2 separate regions of the Homo sapiens genome follow, and region 2 is reported to be linked to region 1. Evidence: microRNA targets listed by miRTarBase, many of them from high-throughput screens and not tested one by one. Region 1 holds a microRNA gene; the other region holds the end of a gene's coding sequence.

The links. Region 1 holds the annotated microRNA hsa-miR-181a-2-3p (ACCACUGACCGUUGACUGUACC, at 1,143-1,164, shown strand). A microRNA usually pairs through its seed, bases 2 to 8, with sites in the 3' UTR of a target mRNA and lowers its output. Matches are read on the target gene's strand: a 7mer-m8 pairs with bases 2 to 8, a 7mer-A1 pairs with bases 2 to 7 and ends in A, and an 8mer does both.
Region 2: miRTarBase lists BASP1 as a target of hsa-miR-181a-2-3p. Seed matches in the 3' UTR shown: 8mer at 2,190-2,197.

What each region holds. Positions count from the first base shown.
Region 1 is chr9:124,691,376-124,694,629 of GRCh38, forward strand. It overlaps MIR181A2 (microRNA 181a-2), which reads left to right and starts at 1,067; the gene lies at 1,067-1,176. The region is part of intron 2 of NR6A1 (nuclear receptor subfamily 6 group A member 1); the gene reads right to left. The region is part of intron 1 of MIR181A2HG (MIR181A2 host gene); the gene reads left to right. MIR181B2 (microRNA 181b-2) reads left to right here and starts at 2,335; the gene lies at 2,335-2,423.
Region 2 is chr5:17,275,692-17,278,818 of GRCh38, reverse strand. BASP1 (brain abundant membrane attached signal protein 1) reads right to left here. Exons shown (of 2, transcript NM_006317.5): 2 at 1,985-3,127. The coding sequence ends at 2,919. Among named protein-coding and RNA genes, the nearest start is that of BASP1, 60 kb to the right of the region's middle. RefSeq lists an enhancer at 2,685-3,127.

The DNA of each region.
Region 1 (3,254 bases):
TAGTATTTAAACCTAAAGCAAATAGTAATAACTATCCCCATTTAGAGATTAACTTCAATTCAGCAGGCAGTTCTGTAAGCCCTTTTCCTATTAAGTATTCCTAGATCTGTCCCATTGTAAATCACATATTCTGAAGATTCATATTATTAATTCATTTTTCAAATTTTTCATCACAGACATTCAACAGAATCAAAAATAACCACTATGTCCTATAATGTACTGGTATCGTTTCAGCCAGAACAAATGACATCTGACATTTTAGTTACACTCTGTGTTCTCAACTAAGAAGAAATGCAAGCTTTACATTAGGTGGTGGGTTTTTGGTTTATTTTTTGCTTTTTCAATATGGAAAATAGCTTGTGGACTATCACTAACACCTCTGTGGTAACTTAGTAATGCAGGATCTCAGCAAAGGAGATCATCAATCATGGAGGTCGAGGTTTTTCATCTTCCCCTATGACCTCACCTATAGACCTACCTGCTATTATTATAGGCAAACAAGTAGAAGAAATTTACATGTTTGACTTTGGCTCTGCAGTGATGGGTCTACTCCTAGATATCAACAGTAAGTTCTGTAGTAGACAACAGAAGCAGTATGATGAGTGAGCACTGGAAACATGAAGTCCAGTATTCAAATTCTGGCTTATAACCTTGGCTCCTGGCAATGTAACTTTAGGCAAATCACTTCAAGTTTTTTCATCAGGAAAATGTGGGTTGTTGAGAATTTAATGAGATAAAATATACAAATCCTAGTATATAGCAGATCCCCAATATATGTTAATCTCTTACCCTTGTTAACAATTAAAATACTACTGCAAAATCAGGTATTTTACATTTTTAGAATCACAAAATAATACCATTCAAAGACATTTTCTCAGACATTCATTTGAGTCTGCTTGTACAAATTACTGCACAGTCTATCCCACAGTTCATTAGTTCTCTGCTGCACACAAATTGATTTTATAATTTAAATACTCTCGACTTGAAACCCAGAGAGGAATGTAAGAGCATCCATCAGCGGTGGTCTCACTGCTCACTGGTTCTTGGGATGTGGATGGGAGAATGAAGAAGGGCTATCAGGCCAGCCTTCAGAGGACTCCAAGGAACATTCAACGCTGTCGGTGAGTTTGGGATTTGAAAAAACCACTGACCGTTGACTGTACCTTGGGGTCCTTACAGACGACACTACATTTCCTGAAGCAAAAGAGCAAGCTGTACCTTCACATGTCACATGAGTTCACCAGAAATGGTCCTGCAATCCCCCAAATGTGGTCCAGTGAATTTTATTCCTACTGCTCACTGTTCCTTGCTTTCTGTTGTGTGTTTTATTATTATTTGTTTGTTTTTACAAAAAAAGTGTTTCATTTCAACAAGGTAAGGAGCAGTCCATGATGATATCTAATGTACCTACATGTCTCCTAGATATGCACCATTCTGGTGAGAAACAGGACGTAGCAAGTAAAAATTTATTAAAAATACGTATTTTGTTTTGGAATAAAATCCAGTTAAATAATTACTCCCATTTCTCCCACATCCTCTCAAAATTTTTAATTAGGGGCAAGGGGAGGATTTAATAAGCAAAAATAGCACAAAATTATCCAATTGTGACAGTTCTTATCACATTTCACTTTGAATTATAGTTAATATGGTTAATTTTTGATATCCCAGTTAGAGCATGAGCTATTGCCTTACTAGTGCCCACATATCCCCACATATGCTTATTTAAATGTTTGCTAAATTCAAGCAAAAACTTAGCCCTGGAGTCAGTCAGATCTGGGATGAATCTTGGCTCAAGCCCTTAACTAGTTATTTGACCCCCTAAGCAAGTGTCTCAGTTTTCTCACATATAAAACAGAGGCTAAGAGTACCTATCATGGAGTTTTGAGACTCAATGAGATAATATATAAGGTGCTTTGTACCATTACTAGCCCACAGCAAATGCTCAATATATGTAAGCTGTTATTATTAAACTCCAACATAATCTGCTAATTTACCTCAAAAAAGCACTCATACTTCTCAGTTCAAAACAAAGAGGAAAAGCAGGTCCCTCAGCTGTGGTTTACAGGTACTAATATGCAAGCACTGCCTGTGTGGCGCAGTGCTACCTGTGAGGTTCTCCAAGCACTCCTTCCTTCTCTGAACCACAGCTTCCTCATCTGCAATAACCTCCCAGCTCCAATGTCAATGTTATGGACACCTGTGTGGGCCCTCAATCATGCAGATGGCTGGTTACTAAGGGAGAAGCCAGACACACAGACTTCAAAGAACTGAGATGGAAAAGAAGAGCCAGGAGTCAGCCAGGGAGGGCAAAGGCAACCCCACCAACTGAAAACACTGATGGCTGCACTCAACATTCATTGCTGTCGGTGGGTTTGAGTCTGAATCAACTCACTGATCAATGAATGCAAACTGCGGACCAAACAACCCAAAGGAAGCAAAAGCATGTGCAGAGAGTCGCCTGAGTGCAGCAGCTACTGCTGTGAGTGGGAGCTGCTACTATTTCCAAAACACTAGCTAAAGCTTTTCTTGTTCTCCTTGGTTCTAACATGGAGTAAGTTCTCTAAATTCCTAGTACTTTTCTCCTTTTTCAATAGTCTAGATTTAAGGAAATGATATTTTATAGGAAGAATTAAATACATATCTGGATATCACATCACATTTTAAAAATCAGTACATTCAGAATTTCTAAACAGAATCATATGCTTATTATTTAGAAATTCAAATACAAAAATATACAAAGTAAAAATTGAAAATCCCTTCAATCATCATCTGCAATCCATTTCCTCGGAGGAAAACATGTATAATTATAATAAACTTATTAAGATAATAAATATCATAACTAGAATTTATTTTATATCCTTGAAGACCTTTATCCATACATACACAGATAAATAGCTGTAATTTTGCATGTTTTGGGGGGAGAGTGGCTTAGACAAAAATAAGCTCATTTTTACCTATTGTTCTATAATCTATTTTGTTATTCAGCTATATATCATAGACTTCCACAACAGTCTTTTATGTACTCGTCATTCTTTTAAATGGCTATATAGTATGACTTAATATGAATGTTCTGGTTATTATTCAGATGTACATCAATATTCTCTTTTGACAAAAACTATGAGGCTCATTCATTCTAACCTTTGCAAACCATGTCCCTCAAACAGGAAAAACACCTAAGTGAGATAGAAGATGTACATTTTTCTTAACAAAAAATTTAAATGTAGTATCAACTCTCTAAATCCTGTAACATGAGA
Region 2 (3,127 bases), not on the chromosome of region 1:
CTTCTCTTCATTTTAAATCATTCATGAGGCAAGAACAATCTAGGTTAATCCAAATTAACATGGCCCAACATTGTTCCCTTCCTGGCTGAGCCAATTACTCCCACACGTACTACATTTTCTGCTGCATATACAACTTCAAACTACAGCTCAAGTTTTTTTCTTCAGTATGGTAAAATTCAATGTCATGAACCATGGCTAGGTTAAAATTCTGATTTAAACATTTTGGTGACTATATTTCTAACACTTTTTAGTTGCTTCAACACCTAATGGAGTTATAAAAAAGAAAAATAAATATATATAGCTCAGATTTTAATTCTCCTACTCTGCAACTCCAAATAAATTCAGAAAAATGTCTCAGTTTCATTTATTCAAAAAATGGCAATTTGTAGTAATAAATGCTAATCTGGGAGGCTGATTTGATTGTTCTAATTACCAAAAAGCTTAGCATTTTTTTTATTAGAAGAAGGGGAAGTGGGGAAGACAGTGAATATATAAAATATTACTTCCACCAAGCATATTTTTCTGCAATAAATGCATGGCATTTAATCAGTAACTATATAAATGTCCTCCATGGTTCACTGAATCTTTTACCACTCCATCACCATCACCGGCCCCCAAGCTATTTTGTATATGCGAGGACACGCGGGTAATTACCTGGACATTCCCCTTCTTTTTCCTTATGTAAAACAGTTGCCTGGTGGTTACTGTGTTTACAGATTTCTTGTATGCTGTGCTTTCAAGCATTAAGAATTCAAATTTATCTCACTATAGAAACAAGAACCCAAAGTGCCAAAAAATGATCATAAATACCAGTTGAACCCAACGGGTATAATACTTACATAATCCTCACTTTCACCACTTTTTCTTTCCCAATGAGGTAAGAGACAGACTATAGGCTACTCCCAAAATACTCAAAGATTTTTTTCCCTTTTTTATTTAACCATGTGTAATGTAACCCGTAAGAATGGAACCAGGTTCGTCTGAATCCATTGTGTCATTAATGTCCCTTTGAGAATCAATTCCATTACACTGGCCTTCACACATTCCACAGGACATTTCCTATGTCGGAGTTTTCTAAACTATGAAATTGTTATTCATTACTCTGTGAGTTTTGGAGAATCAAGACATGGAAGAGACATCCCATCAGTCTGTGCATACCTATGCATCGTGACATTAAATTGTCACCGGGTATGTACCCAAACCATTAAATGGGACCTTGCCTCAGAGATCATAAAGGCTACACCCTTTTGTAAGTAAAGCAAGGAAGGTCTGGGAAGGTTGGAAGTGACTTAAAACCCATCCAAGTCACTAGTGGCAAAATCAGGACCGAAATCCGGTCACCATAAAGGCCGGCTCCATGCTTGCTTCCGCATCACTGCTGTCTCATAGCACAATTCTCAGGTGGCCTTTCCTGGCTCTACCATGAATATGATAAAAATAAAAATAGGGGATGGGATAGAACAGAATAACCATTAGTGGTGCCACAATTTACAAACACAGGTTTCTATAAGATCCTGTCATTCATTTTTTCCCCAGCCTTCAAGATCAAATCTATTTATTGTCTTTTAACGTGTTTTATTCAAAATCTTTCTTCTTCTTAATTAGTTACATTTTCAGAGGGTGCATATGCATAGATGCAGTAAGTTTTCAGTTTAACTTCTTCTGAGATAGTTTACTGACATTGCCCTAGCTATTTTTTTCAACAAATAATGTTGGCATTTTTTTTTTTTTAAATAGAGGTGGGGTCTCACTATCTTACTCAGGCTGGTCCTCAACTCTTGGGCTCAAGCCATCCACCTGCCTCGGCCTCCAAAAGTGCTGGGATTACAGGCGTGATCCACCGTCCCTGGTCTATTTTTTTACTTCTATCCAAATATATTCAGAAAAATGGCCAATACAGTGCTCTGTTCTCTGATAAAGTAGTTATTGAAGGGGACTAGAAAAGTAAAACAAACAGAACAAAAAACCCAATAGTCTTTATTACTTCTTTTTAATTGTTTAACTTTATTACTGTTGCACCATTTATACAATTACATATAATTTCAATGCATCCATTGTACATTTTTTTGTTTTTTTTTTGTTTTTTTTTTCCATTTTCCAATGAGTGGTGTGTTGGTGTCTGTGACACAGAATGGAAGAGAAACTGGAACTGCAATGAACGCAGACTTTTTTTTTTTTTTTTTTTCATTTCCACTGACCAATAAACAGAACTACAGGTGCACCCAACCACGGACATGCATTAACTCGTCATGAGAAATCTAGGTAGGCTAAGTAGGATGAGAGAATGTTTGTCACTCCCAAAAATATCTGGAGAGGAAGAATGGAGGATTGGCATTGAGATCCATGTGGACAAGCTAAGTGGGCTCTGTCTGAAAGCTGGCATTCATCCACAACATTAAAAAAATATCAAAATAAGAAAGGCTGTAAATTAAAAAGAAAACACAGAAAATACTGCTCTCATAAAGATCTGATTGCCTTGGCACAGGCCCTGTGGGCAGAATCAAACGCATCACTCCCAACTCCCATTGCAGAAGAAAAGCTATTCAACTCTCAGCGGTGGAGGAGTGCATGTGGCGGCAGTTTCAGGTACAAACGATGTACTGCACTTTCAGACGCGGATCTTGGAAATCCAGGACTTCTTGGTAAAGTTGACTGAAGGTATATTAGATATTTCCCCACAAAAATACTATTTGGATTCTCCCACCCCCTCCCTCCCTTGATGGGACAACATCCTGTATTTTTCCTTGGGCAATACATATCATTACTTCCAATTTGAAACAAGTTAGTATAGGAGAGAGAGAGAGGAGAGATAGGAGAGGAGAGAGAGAGAGGAGATAGAGAGAGAGATAGAGAGAGAGAGAGAGAGAGAGAGAGGAGATTGTTTTAAGTGGTATTGTTTTTCCTATAGGCTGTCCTTGTCACTCTTTCACGGTTACGGTTTGGTCGGAATTAGCTGCCGGGGCCTCCACCGGCTTGGGCTCTTCTGCAGAGGCTGCGGGGCCCTGGGCCTTGGGTGTGGAACTAGGCGCTTCCGTGGCTGCGGGGGTCTCCTTGGAAGAGGGGGCAGCCTCCGAGCTGCCGGGTTTTGAGTCTGAAGCTGGGGCCCCGTCACTTTTGGTCTCCTGGG